4 linked regions of the Homo sapiens genome follow. The protein of the gene in region 4 purifies or fractionates together with the protein of the main gene of each other region. This does not show direct contact. Each region holds a gene or a part of one and is shown on either strand. Other genes may lie near its edges.

What was found.
Region 1: the proteins of DIP2A (region 4) and RBM12B purify together in Homo sapiens (affinity purification with mass spectrometry, with the first as the bait; one large-scale study listed by BioGRID). This does not show direct contact.
Region 2: the proteins of DIP2A (region 4) and HSD17B4 purify together in Homo sapiens (affinity purification with mass spectrometry, with the first as the bait; one large-scale study listed by BioGRID). This does not show direct contact.
Region 3: the proteins of DIP2A (region 4) and NKTR purify together in Homo sapiens (affinity purification with mass spectrometry, with the first as the bait; one large-scale study listed by BioGRID). This does not show direct contact.

The regions. Positions count from the first base shown.
Region 1 is NC_000008.11:93,738,191-93,742,266, forward strand, and holds the start of RBM12B (RNA-binding protein 12B), read right to left. Parts: upstream 2,820-4,076; 5' UTR 2,691-2,819; exon of another isoform or gene 2,507-2,690; 5' UTR 2,439-2,506; exon of another isoform or gene 1-2,438.
Region 2 is NC_000005.10:119,455,465-119,459,031, forward strand, and holds part of HSD17B4 (peroxisomal multifunctional enzyme type 2), read left to right. Parts: intron 1-850; coding exon 851-904; intron 905-3,567. UniProt on the Homo sapiens protein: Bifunctional enzyme acting on the peroxisomal fatty acid beta-oxidation pathway.
Region 3 is NC_000003.12:42,607,185-42,610,751, reverse strand, and holds part of NKTR (NK-tumor recognition protein), read right to left. Parts: intron 1-3,567. UniProt on the Homo sapiens protein: PPIase that catalyzes the cis-trans isomerization of proline imidic peptide bonds in oligopeptides and may therefore assist protein folding. Component of a putative tumor-recognition complex involved in the function of NK cells.
Region 4 is NC_000021.9:46,535,339-46,538,905, reverse strand, and holds part of DIP2A (disco-interacting protein 2 homolog A), read right to left. Parts: intron 1,683-3,567; coding exon 1,618-1,682; intron 1,461-1,617; coding exon 1,367-1,460; intron 424-1,366; coding exon 304-423; intron 1-303. UniProt on the Homo sapiens protein: Catalyzes the de novo synthesis of acetyl-CoA in vitro. Promotes acetylation of CTTN, possibly by providing the acetyl donor, ensuring correct dendritic spine morphology and synaptic transmission.

The sequences.
Region 1 (4,076 bases), on a different chromosome or scaffold from region 4:
TTCATCTCAAGCCAAACAGAAAATGCTATTTATCTTATTAATAATGCCAATAGCAGATTTCCATTTCAAACAACTATTCTGCACTCTACTAAGGAAACCCAAATGATGATGTAGAAAAGTAAAATTAAAAATTAACTTGGAATACTGGGATTACCCGTTTACTGAAAAATCTCAATGTAATTTTTTAAAGAAGTTTGCGTTTAATACTTTCAGGGATACCCAAACTATTTCATGAAGACTTGCCAAATAAATAATTATAATTTACACTCACTTTCTTTGGTGGGGGAGACAGGGTCTCTCTTGCTCTGCTACCCAGGCTGGAGTGCACTGGTGCGATCTTGGCTCACTACAGCCTCGACTTACCCAGGCTCAGGCAATGCTCCCACCTCAGCCTCCCCAGTAGCTGGGACTACAGGTGTGCACCACCACACCCGGCTAATTTTTGTATTTTTTGTAGAGCCAGGGTTTCACCATGTTGCCCAGGCTGGTAGGGAACTCATGGGCTCAAGCAATCAGCTCACCTCAGCCTCCCACAGTGCTAGGATTTACAGGTATGAGCCACTGCGCCTGGAGTAATTTACATGTCTTTAATGTACAAATAAATGTTGCGTTAATCCAGAATCCAGTACTTACACTTAAGTACCACTGTTCCCCAAAGTGGGGGTCTGAAGATACATTCACTGAGGTCTGTTTTCCTTTAAAAAAGGGTACGTAGATTAACCAGAAGCTAAACTAGCAAAGACATCAAATTACTTCACACATTCTACATCTGAAAAATATTAATCAGGTTTGCTATTAAAGTATTTGCACAGTAACAAAAAAAGAAAAAAAGCCTATTTTCTTCAACAAACCAATATCCATACTAACACTTCAACAAAAACTACAAATGGCTTCTGGAATACTTACTTTATCCATATTAAAGTCCCAAGACTCCCTCCTATGCAAATTGGCTTAGCTACTCTTTTTAAGATATTTTAGAAAGCACCATAAGCTATACATATTCTTGTCTCTCCTAAGCTTTTAAAAAAATTTTAACGGGATTTACCCTGGGAACATAAATTCATCTACAAGAGAAATTAGAGACGTTTCAAGGAATAATTATATCTCAAATTCAAAAAAACTCTAGTAATTTATCCTACCTCACTTAAAAACTATCTTTTAACCAAGTAGTTTCATGAGCACAAATCTCATGAATTCCAATTCAAGCAGACTATTTAGAAAGTTTATTCTCATTTGCCACAGTTAAACAAAACTAATGCTTAAACTTCTCTACCCTTGAGACAGTAGGGTAATGTACCATTTATGCCTCTACAATAACACACCTTGGAGACCAACTGTAAGAGACCAGCTCTCAAAATGGGCACTTCTGTGGTTCCAACATGCTATATTTCCTTAAGCAAATTCTCCAGAAATTCAACTCTTAACACACTAAATTACACAAAAGCAAAACACGAAAATTACCCTCAAGTAGTCTGCAATTAAAATTTTGCGTTTTTCTAGTTATGAATGCAAAAAGTATTTTTGTGCCTTTGTGTTCATTTGAAGACAATAATCTGTTAAAATTTCTATGAAAAGAAGAGTGGGTCCCTAAAAGATCACTTAAGTCAGTGAAATTTAAAGCGCATTTTAAATAACTGCTATTTTTATCCAACGATTCATCCCACTTAATCACCATTATAACTAAACAATACGTAACGTGCCTCTTCTAATCAAGACTTAAGGGGATACAGAGAGGGAAACGGGAGGGAGACAGAATTTAAATAAGTAATATCTCATCAGATCCATTTGATTTTTAACTAGCGAAGAAAAAGTCATTTTCCAGATATGGTGAGGGAGAGAATTTTTTTTAACTCTGCGACTACTTCGTAAAGCCCAAGGTCATGATGTAGCATATTCACACTCTAAACGTGAGTTTCCCCTGCAGAAAATAATCTACACCAACCCATAATTATTCTTTACGATGATCCACCTTTTATAATGTAGATGTTTAAAATAAAAACCAAAGGAATGACCAATGAGAGCCACAGTCCCTAGGAAGAACTGTAAATGAAGACGAATCCACATGGCACAGGATTTCTCCCAACATCCTCAAACGGGAATCATCCGAAGGCATCGATTCTACAGCCCAAAGCCTTTGTCCACAACTCCCAGGGGTCAGAGCTTCCTTCTTTCGCGCCAGGCCAAAGTTGCTACGTGGGATCCGATGTTGTCGCCAGACTTTCAGCCAAAATCAGCCTTCAAATTAACCTGGACCGCCCAACCTCCGTGCCTTTCCGTTACGCCGTCTCAAGGGCAAACATTCCACCCTAACTCGCCAGAGGGTGAACTGCCCCCAGATCTAACTGAAAACACTTGCCCTTCTCAAGCCTAACGAGCTGGGCCTGCAGCGCTTTTCTGCCACCACTGACTACGATGACATAGCAAAGAAAAAAATATACCTATGAAATCCTTCGAGATCTTCACTCTCAAGATCCCTGGGAAGCGCACATACACCACCACATGGAAGCTGACGGGAAAGGAAGAGTCGGTGTTTTAGCAAGAAAAGAGGGTGCCCTAACGGCAGGAGCTACGCTAGATACTGGCGCGGCCGCCGGTCCCGCCTTTCCCCGTTCTTCCGGCTTGGTCGCCCAGCCCTCCCCACCCCCGGCGCCCCGAGGGGAACTGCTTCGCACTTGGCAATAAACACACACCACTGCTGCCGAGTCGGACACACAAGGCCGGAGGCTGAGGGAACTCTTCGTCGCAGCAGCCTCCCCAAAACAGGTAGACCCTCAGTGAGCCCAGAAGAAGATGGCGCCCACTGCCCCTCCGGTCCGGACAAACGGACGTACGGTTTATCTGCCCATGCGCTCTGCAGGCGCAACCCACCACCAAGCTTGCGCACGCGCGCTGCCGCTCACCCGTTTCCCCTCGCTAGAGGAGGGGAGGCGGAGCCCCGGGGTTGGCTGAGCTTCTGCGCATGCCCAGATTCTGCCCAGCCCAGGGACCTCGACTTTCAACGGGAGAAATTCAGAGACACATTCAGGGCTCAGCCGGTAGATGTGCTGAGAATCTTCGGTAGACAACTGTCGAAGTACGGCGGACAAACTTTAAAGATTTCCAGAAGTTAAGGAAAGAGATGCAAAAGCAGAGAAAAGGCGACTTGTCTTTTCAGTGTTGCATTACTGTGTGGCGTAAAACATCTTCTAAAAAGCTCCTGTGGCCGGGCACGGTGGCTCACGTCTGTAATCCCAGCACTTTGGGAGGCCGAAGCGGGCGAATCACTTGAGGTCAGTAGTTCGAGACCAGCCCGCCCAAAAAGCGAAACCCCCGTCTCTACTAAAAATACAAAAAAGTCAGCCTGGCATGGTGGCGGGCGCCTGTAATCCCAGCTACTCGGGAGGCTGAGGCAGGAGAATCGCTTGAACCCGAGAGATGGAGGCTGTAGTGAGCCGAGATCGCACCGCTGCACTCCAGCCAGGTCAAAAGAGTGAAACTCCATCTCAAAACAAAAATAAAAAAGCTCCTGTAGACCCTAGAATACCACAGAAAAGGTAATTTTACTGCCTTAGATGTTCGCCAAGTACAATCCCAACACCTGGGGGCTTAATAAATGCATGCTTAGTCGGTTTTATAGATATAAATAACCTTGTGAAGTGTCTTTATAAATTTGTTCCCATCTTCTGGATTTTTGAAACAAGAGAACAGATGAGCCAGTACTGAAATTTCAGTAATGGAAAAGCACTATTACAGGTGTACTCTGTGATGCCTGCTACGTAATAGCTGGTGAACAACCTTGTGTTTGGTTTTATCATTTGCAAATAACAAAGTTTCCCACCACGTTGTATAGCTACTTGATGTATTTGTGGATGGATTCAAAGCTCATTAAGCAGAAAGTACATTTTAAAAACATTGTTACAGATGACAGAAAAAGTGAGTTGTGGATCCCTTTCTCACTGCAAAATACCCATTCTTTAATGATATGATTATAAGAAAGAAGAGGTAGTTTAATAAGTAAATAAAAAGATAGTTAACACAAAATCAGAGCCATCTTTTACTCACTGGACAAATTATTTAGCCCCTCTGTGCCTCAGTTT
Region 2 (3,567 bases), on a different chromosome or scaffold from region 4:
CGAGATCATGCCACTGCACTCCAGCCTGGGCGACAGAGTGAGACTGGATCTCAAAAAAAAAGAAAAAAAGCAAAACTTTCTCTCTCTCTCTCTCTCTCTCTCTCTATATATATATATATAATTTCTTTTTGGATATATAAATTTACACCTTGTAGCTTTGAGTCAGAATTAAATATTTTCTGTATTTGATGACTGTGTAGTCAGGGTTCACTGTGGGATACAGAAACCACTAGATATTTTAAGCAGCAAAGGATTCAATACAGGCAATTAGGTTTTAGGCAGGTCTTCTTAGAATAACTCCTGAAACAATAGGAAATTGATCCATTAGAGGAGGCAATACCTCTGAGGCTGTCATTGGAGCTGTGCCACAGCCCAAGTAGCACTGGCACTAGGGACCTGAAGTATGGAAGCTGCCATCCAGGGATTAGGGAGCTGAATGAAGAAGTCGCTGCTATAGTCAGTTTCTGAATACCTAGGAACTTTCAAGAAAACTAGCTTCTTAACAACAACAGCCAGAACTCCCAGTAAGGTGGTCTCTGTCTCACTTACACCTTCTAAGTTTTATGCAGATGCATCAGATGGTGGAACCCAATTCACAGCATCCTAGCAGCTAAGTAGAATGGTAGGAAGTGGTAGTAGAATAGGTGGAAAAATACAGTTTTAAGCTTTCCAGCCTCTGCAAGCAGAAGAGAGTGGATAGGTTGAGAATGTCAGTGATAGGATAGGTTGAGAGTATCATTAAAATGTAATTAATTGTTCACCAATTTCTTTAAATGGGGATTGAGTTGAGCGGACCAAAAAAATTATGCTGACATTTCTTCAACTTTCTGATTATTTTGTTTTTGATTAGGATTGGGCCGAGCCTATGCCCTGGCTTTTGCAGAAAGAGGAGCGTTAGTTGTTGGTAAGTTGGTGTGTTTTTCTTTTTAATCTGTAGCTGATAACTGAAATACAATCTTTACAAGCTATCTTTGTCTTTCTATCAAATAATTTGTCAAGGTTGAATTTTATTATTAATTTTTACTTTTGCCAGAAGGTTTTTACCCCGACTAAGGCTGTCTGTCTAAATTACTTTTAAAAGGGAACCAGTTTCACAGAATTCCCAGCTTAACAGAATTGATAACGAAGGGCTAGGGGGTAGGCATGCTGGCTTGTGGCTATAACTCCAGTGACTCAGGAGGCTGAGGTGGGAGGATCGCTTGAGACCAGGAGTTCGAGCCTGCAGAGAACTATGATTATACCACTGCACTCCAATCTGGGTGATGGCGCAAAAAAAACCCTGTTTCTCACAGAAAAGGGTGGGGACAAGCATTTATTGTATAAAAGGAAATTCTTGACTTCAGTAAATTGTAGGCTGTAATTTTTTGAGACAGGAGGTTTGTCTACTGGTGCGAGATCAAAAGAGAGCCCCTGTAAGTGTATTGATAAAAGTAAGAAATAACTGAATTTTGAGAACTGGAAGTTTGGAGTCAAGGAATCTAAAGTATGGGTTTCTTGACTCTTTCATCAAAACTTTTCAGCTGGAAGTGTTTTAAAAAAATTTAATTGAGGGGGCAGTTACATGAGTTTTTGTTTGTGGAGGGGTCAGATGGAAGATACTGTATTGAAGAATCCTAAAGGTGGGAGGTTTTAGTAATCTGCATGGTTTGGACTGATCTAATGTGCTTGACAGTTGGTGTGGACACAGAAACGAATTTGTCCACAACTGAGCCTTTCTGGGGAATAACTAAATGGGTGCTAAGTGCAGGGGGATATGTAGGACCCAGTACTTATTAGCATATTTCCTGGGATAAAACTGTGGGCCCACAATGATCTTCTAATTTCAGCTTTCTGACATCTTAACGAGGCAATACAGAGAGACGAATTTTCATCAGTTTGTTCAGGGAGACACATATAACAAAAGAGTAAGCAAGCAACCAGGTTTTCTAAACAAGCCCTAAGCAGAGCACTTGATACACTTTTCTCCTTCATTGTGGATGTGTAGCTTATCTTTATGGAAGGAACACTGACGCTTTGGATGTTCCTTGTTTAAGATCATAGGCACTGTCTGCTAATCCAATCTGCTTCTTCTGGCAGGGATGAATTTTGACATTGTATTATTTGGACAGCGAGTATATATTTCAGGCCCACTTTGTCAGATTTTCCCAAGAATAGCTCATGTTGAGGCCTAAAGACACATGCTGTTACTATTTTTAATTTTCCTTCCTTTTTATGTTGCTATTTAGTTCTTAATATTTTTACCTTATATGTTTTTATTTATTTACATCTTTTCTGCTCAATTCCATAACGGCAAGGATCTTGTTTTATCTTTTGTATCTACTAAAGGACCTAGAATATTTCTTTGTGCAAAGAAGGTACTTTGTTCATTGGTTCTTTTATTGTTGATATACTTTTCTGGGGGAAGGGTGTGTTTGAGATTGGTTGAATACATTTCTTTTTTTTGTTCTTGACTAAGATATAAACTTAGTTTATAAACCTGTTTTGTAAAAAATTTTATAACAGTGTGTTCCTGTGCATCAATTTTCCTTTATTTCCCTGTTCCCTCTCAATTTCTTAAATTCAGATTAGGAGTATTTGAATTCTAAGAAAAAATTAAACAGAGATGCTGTGTCTATCTATTTTGTCATTGCATTATTATAGTAGAGATGATAATTGTGTCAAGTCCTGATAAAAGTCCAAGAATATAGAAGAAAAATATTTCATAAACTTGAATGAAGAGCCAGATTTAGTTTAGTATTAAGGAGGAGAATTCAATCCATGTGGAAGTGCAGAAATTTTGACTGATGTTTTCTATTCCTTTTTAAAGTCTGTGTCTTACCTGTTAGCCTTTTTACATGTACACCATAGACACCGTGTTTCCAAGTTGCATCACACACACTAATTTTTTTTTTTTTTTTGAGATGGAGTCTTGCTCTGTTGCCCAGGCTGGAGTGCAGTGGCGTGATCTTGGCTCACTGCAACGTCTGCCTCCGGGTTCAAGCAGTTCTCTGCCTTAGCCTCCCAAGTAGCTGGGATTACAGGCGCCTGCCACCAAGCCTGGCTAATTTTTTTTTTTTTTTTTTTAAGTAAAGATGCGGTTTCACCATCTTGGCCAGGCTGGTCTTGAACTCCTGACCTCTTTTTAGAAGTGGCATGTCACTTCTACCGACATTTCATTGGCCAAAGGAAATCATTTGGCTAAGCCAAAAGTTAGGGGCATCATTTAAGATAGTCTCCAATTTTGTGTTAATATGATTGCTATGTTTTATATTCCATAATATAAAGCTTATGGGATATTTAAATTTGGTATAAGAACTGCTAAGCCTTAGGCTGATACTGTAAAAAGGGACATTTGCTTTTGTGTAAATTACATCTTTCAGGAAATGCTTGTGCATTTCTTAAGTAGGTTATTGGGAATTCAGTAGTTTTGAGGTTTCCTCAGTAGGTGAGCTATATCTAGTTCTCTGAATAGTAAGTTTTATTTTGAGGACATAAACACAAGAAGGACTGACAAAAAGGAGCAAAAAGAACTCCTTAGTAAAAGAAAGGGAGTTCTACTCTTGAACTGAAGTAACACCTTTGGGTAAA
Region 3 (3,567 bases), on a different chromosome or scaffold from region 4:
AAACCAAAGCCTGGGAGAGATGATATAAAACAAATTTAAAACCCCATATGCCAATCTCATTTTAAAAGAGACACTATTCAACATTAGGAAATCTACTAATATAGTTTATTGAAGTGAAGGAAAAATCCTATAAAAATCCCATGATAGAAAAAAAAAATCCCACGATAGAAACCAAAAGTGCACGGTGAAATTCAACATTCATATCTACTACAGAAACAACAAAATAAATTTTAAAAAAGAAAAATATAAATTAAAAAAAAGAAATTCAACATTCATTCCTTTATATGACACACATATTCTCAGATATTTTTCAAATCAACAATCAGCATTATCGTTAATGGTGAAACACTCCTGTAGCATTAATTCCAGTGAAGCAGGAAACAAGTCAAAAGTAGTTGTTAGCATCACTACTGTTTAATGCTCTTTCAGAAATTCTAGTCAATGTAGGCTAGGCGTGGTAGCTCACGCCTATAATCCCAGCACTTTGGGAGGCGGTGGGGGGCGCGGATCACCTGAGGTCGGGAGTTCGAGACCAGCCTGACCAACATGGAGAAACCCCGTCTCTACTAAAAATACAAAATTAGCGGGTGTGGTGGCTCACTCCTGTAATCCCAGCTACTCGGGAGGCTGAGGCAGGAGAATCGCTTGAACGCAGGAGGCAGAGGTTGCAGTGAGCCGAGATTGCACCATTTTGCACTCCAGCCTGGGCAACAAGAGCGAAACTCTGTCTCAAAAAAAAAGGAAATTCTAGTCAATGTAAGTAGATAAGAGGACAATAGGAGAGATTTACAAGTAAAAAAGAGCATATTTATCACCATTTGAAACATTAGCTATACACCTAGAAAGCCCAAAAGAACCAACTGAAATACCAACAGATACTGAAGTTGTTGATATTTATATTATGACAAACAAGAACTAGTAGAACAAAATACAGTAAAAATCACATTCTCAAAAACAACAAGAAACATTCTACCTACATAACCATAAGAGTATAGGATCTATAAAAACAAAACTCCAACTTTGAGAGGCATAATGCCAACATGAATAAAGGGAGAGATACCTTGTTCTTAGACAAGACTCAAAATTGCAAATGTGCCCAATATTCCCTAGAGTAACCTATAATAACTTAATTGCAACCTTCAAAAATACCAGTGAGATTTCTGAGGGAACTTGACAAAATGATCCTGAAGGTTGTCTGAAAGAATAAATGTGCAATTCCCCTTCTTGAACTTTTGTTTTGAAATTTTCAAATCTACAAAGATGTTTTGCCATATTTATCCCTCTCTAAACACACAATCTTCTGGAACAAACTGAAAGTTAAAGACACTGTGACACTTCACCCCTAATTATTAATACTTCAGCTTATATTCCTAAAGAATAAAGATATTCTGCTACTTAAATCCAAAACCATTACTACACCAAAGAAATTTAATAGTGATTATCATCTACTCCATAGCTGTGGCATAACATGAAACATTACATTTGACCTCTGTCCCCAGTTCCTACATTTGACCTCTGTCCCCAGTTTCTAGCACAGTGCTCCTAAAACTTGTAATTTTCTAAGTGATAGGACTGATAGGAGCATCTTTTGTTCTATTTGATCTTTCTTCTTTTTTTTTTTTTGATATATGAGTCTTGCTCTATTGCCCAGGCAGGAGTGCAGTGGTATGATCTCTGCTCACTGCACCCTCCACCTCCCAGGTTCAAGCAATTCTCCTGCCTTAGCCTCCTGAGTAGCTGTGATTACAGGTGCTCGCCACCATGCCCGGCTAATTTTTGTACTTCTTTTTAGTGGTCAGGGTTTCACCACGTTGGCCAGGCTTGTCTGGAACTCCTGACCTCAAGTGATCTGCCTGCCTCGGCCTCCCAAAGTGCTGGGATTACCGCCATGAGCCACCACACCCAGCCTACTATTTGATATTTCTCTCAGATTCTTGACAGAGAACACTTAAATCCCTTAGCATTCGCATCCAAAGAAGAGACTCTTGGCAGACCCCCAGATAGCTTCAGGATAGGGCTGGTTGCCAGAAAAACCATGCCTTGGTTAGAGGTCTGTAACTTTCAGCCTCACTTTCCAACCTTCAGAGAGAGAAGAGGGGCTGGAGATTCAGTTAATAATTGATCACACATATGCAATCATACGTGATGAAATAATTGATCATACATACATATATTTTTAGCCACAAAACCCCCTAAATGGCAGGGTTTAGAGAGAGCTTCCAGACTGGTGAACACAATGAGGGAGGGCGACATGTCCAGAAGGCCCATGCATCTCCCCACCCTCTGCACCTACAATACCTTGCCCTAGGCATCTCTTCTGTTTGGTTGTTCCTGAGATATATCCTTTATAATAAACCAGTAATAGTAAGCAAACTGGCTTCCTAAGTTCTGTGAGCTGCTCTAGCAAATTACTGAAGCTGAGCAGGGGGTTGTAGGAATCCCTAATTTACAGCTGGTTGGTCAGAAGTAAGAGTGACTCAGAAGCCAGGCGCAGTGGCTCACGGAGGCCGAGGTGGGTGGATTACCTGAGGTCAGGAGTTTAGGACCAGCCTGACCAACATAGTGAAACCCTGTATCTAATAAAAAATACAAGAAGTAGCCAGGTGTGGCGGTGGGCACCTGTAATCGCAGCTACTTGGGAGGCTGAGGCACGAGAATCTCTTGAACCCGGGAGGCGGAGGTTGCAGTGAGCTGAGATCGCGCCATTGCACTCCAGCCTGGGTGACAAGAAGGAAACTCAAAAAAAAAAAAAAAAAAAAAAAAAAAAAAAAAAAAAAAAAAAGAGCGACTCAGGACTTGCGATTGGCATGCCCGCAGTGGGAGCAGTCTTGTGGAACTGATTTCTCTTAACTTGTGGAATATGACACTAACTCCAGGTAGATAGTGTCCAGAATCAAATTGAATTGTTGGACACTTAGTTGGCTTTGAAGAATCTGTTACTGTGGGAAAAAACTCCTCATAATAATCCATATTCAAATTTACCCAACTACCCCTACAATGCCCTTTACATGTTTTTTCCCCCTTTTCATTCTTTTTAATGGCTGAATGGAATTCTGTTGTTTGGCTATATCAAATTTTACTCAACCAATCCTCAACTGATTAGCATTTGAGTTCCTTCTAGTTTACTGACAAATATACATCTATTTTTTAAAATCCAGGAATCTCATTCAAGCATTATATACCCATTTGGTTTTCATTTGTTGGCCTCTTTTAATCTAAAACAGTCTCCATCTTTTTTTTTTTGCACCCCATTAGAAAGCATGTCAGTCGGACCCATTAAAGTACCTTTATAACTGAGATATTAGCCACATCTTAGTTGTAAAGGAATTTTCCTCCATTTTAAATAAATAATCTGTTGGATACTTTGCACACAGCACAACTTTTCACCTATGGTTTGGCCACTGATGACTACTTTCTGAACCAGTTATTACCATGGGGGTTGCAAAATGATGATTCTTCTGATTCCATCAATTCTTCTGTATCTATTAAACTTGAATCTTTCTGTTAAGAGCCGCACGCACCCACCCCATGTCAAAAGTAACACAGTATCGACACAAAAAGAGCCTG
Region 4 (3,567 bases):
GAGAAACAGGAACCCCAGGCCACAGCACAATCTGGTAATTTCTTAAGAAAGATGACTCTCATTAAGGCATGTACCTTTCATCAAGCATATTAAAATTGCTTTTAAATTTAGTGGCCTAATAAACATGCATGGGATAAACCAGTGAATCACCAAGATGTTCCGTGTCATAGAAACGATGGGACATGTGTATCTATATGACAATGGCAGTGAAAATGCCTCCATTTTGCTTCTCAGTGTATTCTACTTTGGTTTGCAGGAGGGGACACTGTGTGGGGTATGCGCCGGGCACACAGGCTCACTCACACGGGTTGGCACCATCGGCCACAATCAGCATGCGCAGTGAGCTGAGGCTGACGTCCCTCTGGCCCCGCTGAGCTAGGAGAGACCAGTGCATGTCTCGCGACTTCACCAGCGCGGCCCGAGCTGCAGAGAGAGGATGGCACAGACATCCCTGCGTCACAAGGACTGGCACCCTCACACGCCTACAGACACGTGTACCTCATCCCACAGAGAGGTGTACATGCACAGACAGACACAACACTTAGCTCCCAGGTCACAAGCTCTCTGCAGCCGTCTCTCACATGCAGTCTAACAAACCCTCAAAGCTTTTTCCACAAAAATCAACTCTGAGGTACAATTTAGACATCAAAACCTCAGATCCATTTCCAACATTAATTTTTTCTTAGAAGCTCCATATTGCTCTTTTCCTATCTGCCCGCTTCATCTCATGTTGTCCTTCCCCAAACCCCTGGTGCTGGCTGAGAAGTGTGAGGACCCCAGAAGCTAAACAGATGGTCTCAGGCCTCAGTCTGGCCCCTGCACTGGCTAGCATGTGGAATCCAGCAATCCCCCCACCCCTACCCAAGCTTCAGTTTCCCTCCATAAAGTAGGACAGACAGAGAGAGCTGCCCCTCCACACTGCTCTGAGACATGTCTAGAGGGGCACAGCCCAGTAGGTAGAACAAGGCAACATGGGTGACCCAGGTGATCCAGTGCCTCAGTGGCTGGTAGAAGTGCCACTGAGCTCCACAGGGCAGAGACACAGACTGCCAACTGTGCAGGTGTGGCCATGCTGGGGCCTCCTGCTTGGTCCCAGGAGGCACCTCAACCGTTGAGAGAAGTAAGGCCCAGACCCCACCAAGTGGCCCTACTTACCACATCACCCACGAAACCCTGAGGGCCATGCCAGAGGCAGAGAAAGCCCCCATATTCCTGGGCAGGGGTGTGACCAAGAAAGACGTCCCACAGCTCTTCAGCCTACATCTGCAGTTCCACATGTCAGCTTTATTTTTTCTTAAGCACCAAAGGTCAGTTCAAAGAGATTTCCCTAAAGAAGGGTGAAGGCCCTGACCATGGTATCCGTTACCTTTATAGAAGCACACTTTCTGGATCCAGGAGAGTGGGTTCGCCTTCATCAGCGCGTAGGGGACGCTGACCACGTGCATCCTGTTCATGACGCTCTGTGGGGGAGCACACATGCTTAGGGCGAGTGGGCCCGAGCCACACCAGAAAAAGCAAAACAAAACCGATGTACTCTCCCAACAACATTTCAGGCAGAGGCTTGGGTTCATCTCAATCCCTTGTTCCAACAGTTAGTCATCAGCAAACAACACTCACTGTTAACACGCCATGCCACAGACCAGCATCCCTTTTGAAATCCAGCACGTTTGTTAATGTTTCAGCTGCAAGTGGACAAAGAAGGTGACACCACTGAGCAACCCTCTCAATAAGCCCTATGCATTTTCTAGAGAAATTCTGAGGTGAGTACGTCATCAACATGTAAGTTTCAGGAACAGATACAGCATTTCCAAATACCACATACCAATTAATAATAATCCTGGTTATCTATTCAAATTACTGGAAACACATAAAAGTAGAAGGTCATGGAACTAACACAGAGAACCACGCTGAGCACTAATCAGAAGGCACAGGAACATCACATACTGAAGAAGCTATACAAGGTGTCACCACAGCTTGTCTTTTCTTCTTTTTTTTTTTTTTTGAGACAGAGTCTTGCTCTGTTGCCCAGGCTAGAGTGCAATGGAGCAATCTCAGCTCACTGCAACCTCCGCCTCCCAGGTTCAAGCAATTCTCCTGTCTGAGCCTCCCGAGTAGCTGGGACTACAGGCATGCGCTGCCATGCCTGGCTAATTTTTGTATTTTTAGTAGAGAAGGGATTTCACCACGTTGGCCAGGCTGGTCTCAAACTCCTGACCTCAAGTGATCTGCCCGTCTCAGCCTCCCAAAGTGCTGGGATTACAGGTGTAAGTCACCGCACTCGGCCTCTCCACATCTTCTCATCAGATATTTTTGAGTGGGTATTCTTCTCAGAATCAAGAGGTGGGGATGAAAAACTGTCAGGGATATTCTTACTTCTCAACTCTACACCACATCTCCTCAATTCTCACACCCAGAGGCCGTGATCCGGCATCTCCCCTCTGTAAGAGCTGGTGGTTTGCATCACCCTTCGGAAAGTCACTCTTCCTCTGCCCGTTTTCTCACCCAGAGGTATGCAGCTAACACATCTTAGGAAGCTGGAGTGGATAGGGGTCCTGAGGGTTCCCAGCACAGCTCTCTGCTCAGAGCCCCTGGCCAAGTCTTCTCTAATATCCGGCTCCCACCTTGCACAGGCAGAAAGGACAGAGCCTGGGGCTGTGGGCAGACCTGGCTTCTCGCCAAAGGCCACAGCACTCCAAAGGCAAACAGGAGAGGTTTGATTTGTGTGCCAGGAAATGCTGTTGCACCATGAATAACAGTACTATAAACACCCTTTCTCTGTTGGTTAAGAACACAAATTATTATCATTATTATTTAGAGACGAGGTCTTATTACGTTGCCAGGCTGCAGTGCAGTGAATATTCATAGGCACAATCCCATTACTCATTGGCATGGGAGTTTTGACCTGCTCCCTTTCCTACTTGGGTCGGTTCACCCCTCCTTAGCAAGCTGGTGGTTCCCCACTCCTAGAAGGTCACCATGTTGCTGCCAAACTTCGTGCAGATACCTGGTTAGCACAGCCCACTACAGCCCAAAACTCCTGGGCTCAGGCGGTCCTCTTACCTCAGCTTCCCGAGTAGCTGGGACTATAGGCACACATCATCACGCCTGGCTAAAGAACCCAAATTGTAGGTGACATATGTAAGATCAGCTCTGAGCTGAAGACAAAGAAAGTCACGGGGCTTGATCTGAAAGATCTAACTTTTTTAATAAAGCCCTTAAAAAATACCTAAAATCACTTTCCAAATCTCAAGTAAAAGCTTTAGCTGTGCCCTCAACTTATACCCTTGCTTTTAAACACCTATATTTTTTTCTTTTTTAAAAATTCTATTTAAAATTTCTCCCTTTTTTTGTAGAGACAGGGTCTCACTATGTTGTCCAGGCTGCTCTCAAACTCTTGACCTCAAGTGTTCCTCCTGCTTTAGCCTACCAAAGTGGTGGGATTACTGGTATGAACCACTGCACCTGGCCTGAACACCTATATTTTAGATATTTAGACATACCATTCAATTTCACTCAGTAGTTTTGTTCAATTCTAGTATTACAATGTAAGAAAACTACTGAGTCCAT